Linked DNA regions of Homo sapiens. The protein of the gene in region 1 purifies or fractionates together with the protein of each later gene. This does not show direct contact. Each region holds a gene or a part of one and is shown in the gene's direction. Other genes may lie near its edges. The genes, in order: ARMH3 and ATP6V1D.

Region 1 (3,818 bases):
CAGCTGATCCTTGAAAGTAGTTCTCAAAGTCCAAGGATTTGTACGAAGTGTGATAGATTACAGTTTCTTAAATATAGCTCTCGCTTCTTACTTTTTCTCTATATTTTTATTAGGATCAATATGCCAATGCATTTTTGCATGATGACAACATGAATTTTCGAGTAAACTTACATAGAATGGTAGGTGTTTCTTTTGCTTCTTGTTTTTTCTTAGAGGAAATTTTTTGTATGTCGGCAGGGTTGGGATGAAATTGATCTTACTAGAACAAATGTGGGTGGAAAGTTGTGCCAAAGGGCTTTGCATGACGGCTGTTCAACAGACCCATGCTTGTTGTTGGGATTTTTGTGTGTCATGGAGCTGTTTCTTAATCAAGAGTTTTGGAAGATTCACAAGCGTGGCAATGATACTGGATTTCTTTTTTTTTTTTTTTCTTTTTTTGAGGGAGAGTCTCTCTCTCTCTCTCTCCCCCCCAGGCTGGAGTGCAATGGTGTGATCTCTGCTCACTGCAACCTCTGCCTCTTGGGCTCAAGCAGTTCTTCTGCCTCAGCCTCCTGAGTAGCTGGGATTACAGGTGGCTGCCACCACGCTCGGCTAATTTTTGTATTTTCGTTACAGATGGGGTTTCACCACGTTGGCCAGGCTGGTCTCCAGCTCCTGACCTCAGATGATCTGCCCGCCTTGGCCTGCCAAAGTGCTGAGATTACAGGTGTGAGCCACCGCGCCTGGCCTGATACTGGATTTCAATAATATAGGTTTCAGCAAGGAAATGGTTCTAAGCCTTTTGTTTTCAAAATGTAGTATAATTTTTGAGTGGCTAAGACTAGCTGCTGCTCAGATTTGTTCATCTGAGAAGTGGGCAAATAGAATATGGAGGATCAGGGAATTTCTTAAAGCTTGGAGGTATGTTAAAAAATATCACATTGAGGGCCGGGCTTGGTGGCTCATACCTGTAATCCCAACACTTTGGGAGGCCAAGGCGGGATCACAAGGTCAGGAGATTGAGACCACCCTGGCTAACAGGATGAAACCCCGTTTCTACTAAAAGTACAAAAAATTAGCCGGGTGTGGTGGCAGGCACCTGTAGTCCCAGCTACTCAAGAGGCTGAGTCAGGAGAATGGCGCGAATCCAGGAGACAGAGCTTGCAGTGAGCCGAGATCGTGCCACTTCACTCCAGCCTGGGCAACAGAGCGAGACTCCGTCTCAAAAAAAAAAAAAAAATTACATTGAGGTTTAGATGTAAAACTTTCTTTATTTTTTTGCAACTACTACTGTTGCTGCTTCTATAGGTGGCACCATCACTTCCTCTTTTTTTTATTATTATTATTTATCGTCAAAGAAAAACACCAGTGTACCTCTTTTGTCGTTAGTAATGCCACTTATATAACTAAAAGCAAAGTAAAACCAACAGTTTTCCCATTGTAGTATTCTCTAGTGCCCTTTGAGGTTGTGAATTGTAATTTTGTAACAGGCGTGCATTGATAACTGAAGCATTCACAAGTCCTCCCTTCCCCGCCTCATCCCATGCTACCTCATTCCTCTCCCACCATGTGAAAAAGAGAAAGAAAAGGAAGTATCCCTGTAATAGTGATTTTATTTGCACAAGGAACATGATGATGGGCCATTGGATGTCAGTGCCGGTGTCTACTAATTTCCTTTCTTCATTTTTTTGGTGTGAAGCCTATGAGACACAGGAAGAAGGCAGCAGACAAGAATCTTCCCTGCCGTCCTTTAGTATGTGCAGTACTGGGTGAGTGAGTATCATCAACATTGACATTGTTCTGTGACAGCGATAGGCTTTCATGATGAAGATGAAGAGTAGAACCTGTTTGATGTGCTTCTTCCGCAAATAAATTATTAGTTGTGTTTTTTCCCTGGCCTAAGAATCATGTTTATTGTTGTGTTTGGTAAAGCAACCCCAGTTATAGAGTGGTCAATAAAAGGGTCCTGTTGTTCAAAGAAAAAAGTCATTCCAGTGAGACAAATGGCTGTGTCTAAACTTGATACATGATTTACAAGATACATGATCAAGATTTCAGGCTGGGCGCAGTGGCTCACACCTGTAATCACAGCACTTTGGGAGGCTGAGGTGGGCGGATCACTTGAGGTCAGGAGTTTGAGATCAGCTTGGCCAACATGGTGAAAACCTGTCTGTACTGAAAATACAAAAATTAGCTGGTCGTGTTGGCGTGCGCCTGTAATCCCAGCTACTCAGGAGGCCGAGGCAGGAGAATCGCTTGAACCCAGGAGGCAGAGGTTGCAGTGAGCCAAGATCACGGCATTGCACTCCAGCTGGGGCGAGACTGCATCTCAAAAAAAAAAAAGATTTCAAATTCTTCCCATCCTTTCTTGGTTTGAATTGATGTGCTGGCTGGCCAGGAGGCTTGAAGTTCATGGTTTACATATACAAAACTTCCCCTGAGTATATTAAACTGAGATGAGGCTGACTGAGTTGACAGGTAGGGGGCTGTATCTTGGGTAATTTTGTCTGTCCAGAATTCTGCATTTTCCTCAGGGAATTAGCTGAATTCTTAATCCCATTTCACTTGGATATTCAGCCCCAGTTTCTAAATCTACTTAATTTTAGAAACAGTAATTAAGGCTGTATAATAAGCCTCTCTTGACCCAAAGCCCCACAGCCCATTTCAGTCAATATCTGTCTAACTGAGCATGATAGTAAGATGAGATTGACTGACATAGCTTTAGAGCTGAGTCTCTGGTTACACAAATGTGATCCATAATTTCTTCTCAGAGCTTGCTTCATTGTCTAGTCTCAGAATATGATTTCCCTTTGGCAGTCTGCATTAATGCCATGGGATGAAATATCTATACAATGAAATTTTCCATTTATCTGAATTTATTGGCAGGTCAGGGTATCCTTCTGGAGGTCAGCAAGTGAAATAATTTCTTATTACTTTACAAGTGGCAGGTGGTGAACAGTGTTACACAAAATGCGTTATATAAAATAAGTGTATATGAATAAAGATGTGGTTAGTGGATGCCGTTCAGTGTGAGTGCAAGGTGTACTCAGAAGCTTTTTTTCCAACTCAAAGACAAGAAATGAATTCCATTGTAATTGATCCAGTTTTTCTCTATTCCCCTTTCAGACCTGATGGTAGAGTTTATTGTAACACACATGATGAAGGAGTTTCCTATGGATCTCTATATGTAAGTACAAATATGTACACATTTAATGTGTACAAATCTATTTTAAAGAACTGAATGTTAGAAAATTCATGGTCTGTGTAGGCCGGGCGCCATGGCTCACGCCTGTAATACCAGCACCTTGGGAGGCCGAGGCGGGCGGATCACAAGGTCAGGAGATCGAGACCACGGTGAAACCCCGTCTCTACAAAAAATACAAAAAATTATCTGGGCGCAGTGGTGGGCGCCTGTAGTCTCAGCTACTTGGGAGGCTGAGGCAGGAGTATGGCGTGAACCCAGGAGGCGGAGCTTGCAGTCAGCTGAGATTGTGCCACTGCACTCCAGCCTGGGCGACAGAGCGAAGACTCTGTCTGGGAAAAAAAAAAAAAAAAAAAGAAAGTTCATGGTCTGTGTATACTTTAAGAAAAACACATTTGCATGTGGAGAAGTGTTAGGGAACATTTTCTGGCCTGGATCTGTACATCTTTTCAGAAGAGGTAATAAGCACAAACCACAATGTGGATTCTGCACATATCCGCATGATCACTTCTAGGCACACTGCATGAAGAGGGAGCCGACACATGAATATAGTGATCGCAGGGGTCTGTTGTAATCAAAGATATGCAATACCAGCAGACCACTTAGTTGTCTCTGAGCTTTCGCATTAGGTAGGACG
Region 2 (3,818 bases), on another chromosome or scaffold:
TTTTCCTAATGACATGATGCCTATTATCTAGGAGCTTTCACTGCTCTTGGGCCTTAATAAGGCCCTTTGAAGTGGTAGGCTTTCATTTTTGCCAGTGCTGGTAAGATCACAGCTTGCATTGAATTTTCTAGCAGAGGGTGGAGATCAATCAATAGTGTATAAGTGGTATGTGAGTGTTTTAGGGTGGTTATGGGGAAGATACTTTCTATAATATTTATTTTTGTTTTGTTTTGAGATTGGGTTATGAGACTGGCTAATTTTTGTATTTTTGAGTTTCACCACATTGCCCAGGCTGGTTTTGAACTCCTGGCCTCAAACAATCCTCCTGCCTCGGCCTCCCAAAGTGCCAGGATTACAGGCGTGAGCTATCGCACCCTGCCAGGAAGGCACTTTCTGGTAACATTTGAGAAGTCACACAAAGCCAGATGGAACATAGTTTCCAGGGTAAAGGAATTGAACGCCAGCTTAACCAATTCAATAGCAAACCTAGAAAGGAGTTTTCTCTATCTCACACTAGCAGAAGAATCCTTAAAGTTATATCCATGTAGCACACCTCTGACTGAAAACATAAGCAATCCACGAACTTTAAAATCATTCTTTGTTCTTTTCTTACTGCTAATGTTTTGAATATTGTTCATTCTCTGCTTTCAGAGGCCCTCCTCTAGCAGTAATGACTTTTCTCCCTTTTTGGAAAAAGGACAGTTATCAAAACATACTTAATTGTGACATCTCACTCTTGGTCTCATTTAATGTTAAAACTATCCAGTGGGTCCCTGTAGGTTTATTTCTGAAGAGTCTGCTAAATAAAGTCTTTCTCTTTTTCTGCAGCACTACAGTTATCCAAAATGTCAATAAAGCGCAAGTGAAGATTCGAGCGAAGAAAGATAATGTAGCAGGTAACGTTTCAACCTTTTAGAAACCCTTTGGGGAGAAAAGAGGTGACATTTTAAAATTAACCTGTTTATACAGCAAGATCTTAATGTCCTAGTTTCTTCCTTCTACTTAGAACAAGTTGATTGGCTTTACATGTTAAAATCATTAACAACCAGGTTTCTAATTACTCAGGATAACTTGACTTTTGTATAGAAGTGAACACTTAAGAAGGCAGGTTCCGGCTGGGCACGGTGGCTCATGCCTGTAATCCCAGCACTTTGGGAGGCCGAGGTGGGCGAATCACAAGGTCAGGAGTTCGAGACCAGCCTGGCCAACATGGTGAAACCCCATCTCTACTAATAATACAAAAATTAGCCAGGTTTGGTGGCACGCGCCTGTAGCCCCAGCTACTTGGGAGGCTGAGGCAGGAGAATCGCTTGAACCCGGGAAGCGGAGGTTCCAGTGAGCCGAGATTGCACCACTGCACTCCAGCCTGGGTGACAGAGCAAGACTCTGTCTAAAAATAAAAAATAAAAAAATAAAGAAGTCAGGTTCCACTGGATGTGGTGGCTCACACCTGTAATCCCAGCACTTTGGGAGGCTGAGGTGGGCGGATCACAAGGTCAGGAGTTCGAGACCAGCCTGGCCAACATGGTGAAACCCCATCTTTACCAAAGAATACAAAAATTAGGCCGGGTGTGATGGCTCACACCTGTAATCCCAGTGCTTTGGGAAGCCAAGGTGGGCGGATCGCCTGAGGTCGGGAGTTCGAGACCAGCCTAATATGGAGAAATCCTGTCTCTACTAAAAATACAAAATAAGCCAGACGTGGTAGCGCATGCCTGTAATCCCAGCTACTTGAGAGGCTGAGGCAGGAGACTCACTTGGACCCAGGAGGCAGAGGTTGTGGTGAGCCGAGATTGCGCCATTGTACTCCAGCCCAGGCAACAAGAGCGAAACTCATCTTTAAAAAAAAAAAAAAATTAGCTGGGCATGGCATGTGCCTGTTGTCCCAGCTACTCAGGAGGCTGAGGTGGGAGAATCACTTGACCCCAGGAGGCGGTGGTTGCAGTGAGCTGAAGACCACACCACTGCACTGCAGCCTGGGCGACAGAGTGAGACTCTGTCTCAAAAAAAAAAAAAGAAGGCAAGTTCCTAAATTCATTAATTGAAACCAATTACAATTCCATACTTAAGCTCTTGATTTTTGAGTTTGATGAAAAAGAAACACAGAAAACAGTGATTAAGAAACAGAATTTAGGCCAGGCGCGGTGGCTCATACCTGTAATCCCAGCACTTTGGGAGGTTTAGGCGGGTGGATCACCTGAGGTCGGAAGTTCAAGACCAACCTTACCAACATGGAGAAACCCCGTGTCTACTAAAAATACAAAATTAGCCGGGTGTGGTGGTGCATGCCTGTAATCCCACCTATTCAGGAGGCTGACCAGGAGAATTGCTTGAACCTGGGAGGCAGAGGTTGCGGTGAGGCGAGATCACGCCATTGCATTCCAGCCTCGGCGACAAGAGCAAAACTCCGTCTCAGAAAAAAAAAAAAAAGAGAGAACTTAAAGGTTTATGAATCCATGTATGCTTCTGTGTTTAACAGGTGTTACTTTGCCAGTATTTGAACATTACCATGAAGGAACTGACAGTAAGTGTGAAACTTTTTGTATTACTTTGTGTCTCTGGGATTTCCTGTTTCCTCTTTAAATGAACTAAGTTCTGGAAAATGGTGCTAGATGTTGAGAGGTTCCTGAGTTAGAAATCCTCTTATTTGATATAGTCAGGACAATAGTTGATCAGTTAATCAAAAGGTCTTAAGGCCGGGCACAATGGCTCATGCCTGTAATACTGGCACTTTGGGAGGCTGAGGCAGGCAAATCTCCATCTCTACAAAAAATATAAAAAATCAGCCAGGTGTGGTGGCACGTGCCTGTAGTTTCAGCTACTTCCAGGGCTGAGGAGGGAGGATTGCTTGAGCTGGGGAGGTAGTTGCAGCGAGTTCTGATCACGCCACTGCACTCCAGCCTGGGCTACAGAGCAAAACCTTGTCTCAAAAAAGAAAAAGGTCTTATGCTAGGAAGTCATAAAACATTATACATATCTTAAAATATTTCAATATTTTATCAGAAATATATCAATGTAGAATCACTTGCTATTTAAAAAATATAAGGCCTTTTGAATATGAATTCACTGATTAGACTTCTGTGTTGTTTTTCTGCATATCCTACACCCACAATGCACTGCTTATAATTCCCAGTTTGGGTCTCTTTAAAGTCAAATAAGATCTTAGACACTGATGCAACCTGAATGCTGATTCTTTCTAGATTTTTATAGCCCACTTCCACTTTTTAAATAACTGTCTTATTCATTCCATTCCTAGTTTGACAGCATATTTTCTTTCCAAAGTAAAGTATTAACTTTTTTCATAGAAACAATATTCTTGGCCAGGCACAGTGGCTCACACCTGCAATCCCAGCACTTTGGGAGGCTGAGGCAGGTGGATCACCTTAGCCCAGGAGTTTGAGACCAGCCTGGGCAACATGGTGAAACCCCGTCTCCACCCAAAAAGTTACAAAAATTAGCTGGGCCTGGTGGCATGCGCCTGTGGTCCCAGCTACTCGGGAGGCCGAGGTGGGAGGATTGCTTGAGCCTGAGAAGTGGAGCTTACAGTGAGCTGAGATCGCACCACTGCACTCCAGCCTGGGTGGCAGAGTGAGACCCCATCTCAATAAATAAATAAACAAATAATATTCTTTCTTTTGGCACTTGTATTTCCTTGCTTCATGTGATATTTAATTAAATCATATAGAATATTAAGTACATTTCATACGAAGAAGTAGAGCATTCTAGAGAGAGTCACCTGTTCACAGAGTGTCATCGTACTCTGGGCATCAGGCAGTATGATTTTCAAAGGGAATAAGGGGCATCAAGCTAGTGAAGTG

What was found.
Region 2: the proteins of ARMH3 (region 1) and ATP6V1D fractionate together in Homo sapiens (co-fractionation; one large-scale study listed by BioGRID). This does not show direct contact.

What each region holds. Positions count from the first base shown.
Region 1 is NC_000010.11:101,989,899-101,993,716, reverse strand, and holds part of ARMH3 (armadillo-like helical domain-containing protein 3), read left to right. Parts: intron 1-113; coding exon 114-179; intron 180-1,678; coding exon 1,679-1,748; intron 1,749-3,105; coding exon 3,106-3,166; intron 3,167-3,818. UniProt on the Homo sapiens protein: Involved in GBF1 recruitment, Golgi maintenance and protein secretion.
Region 2 is NC_000014.9:67,346,115-67,349,932, reverse strand, and holds part of ATP6V1D (V-type proton ATPase subunit D), read left to right. Parts: intron 1-828; coding exon 829-896; intron 897-2,479; coding exon 2,480-2,524; intron 2,525-3,818. UniProt on the Homo sapiens protein: Subunit of the V1 complex of vacuolar(H+)-ATPase (V-ATPase), a multisubunit enzyme composed of a peripheral complex (V1) that hydrolyzes ATP and a membrane integral complex (V0) that translocates protons.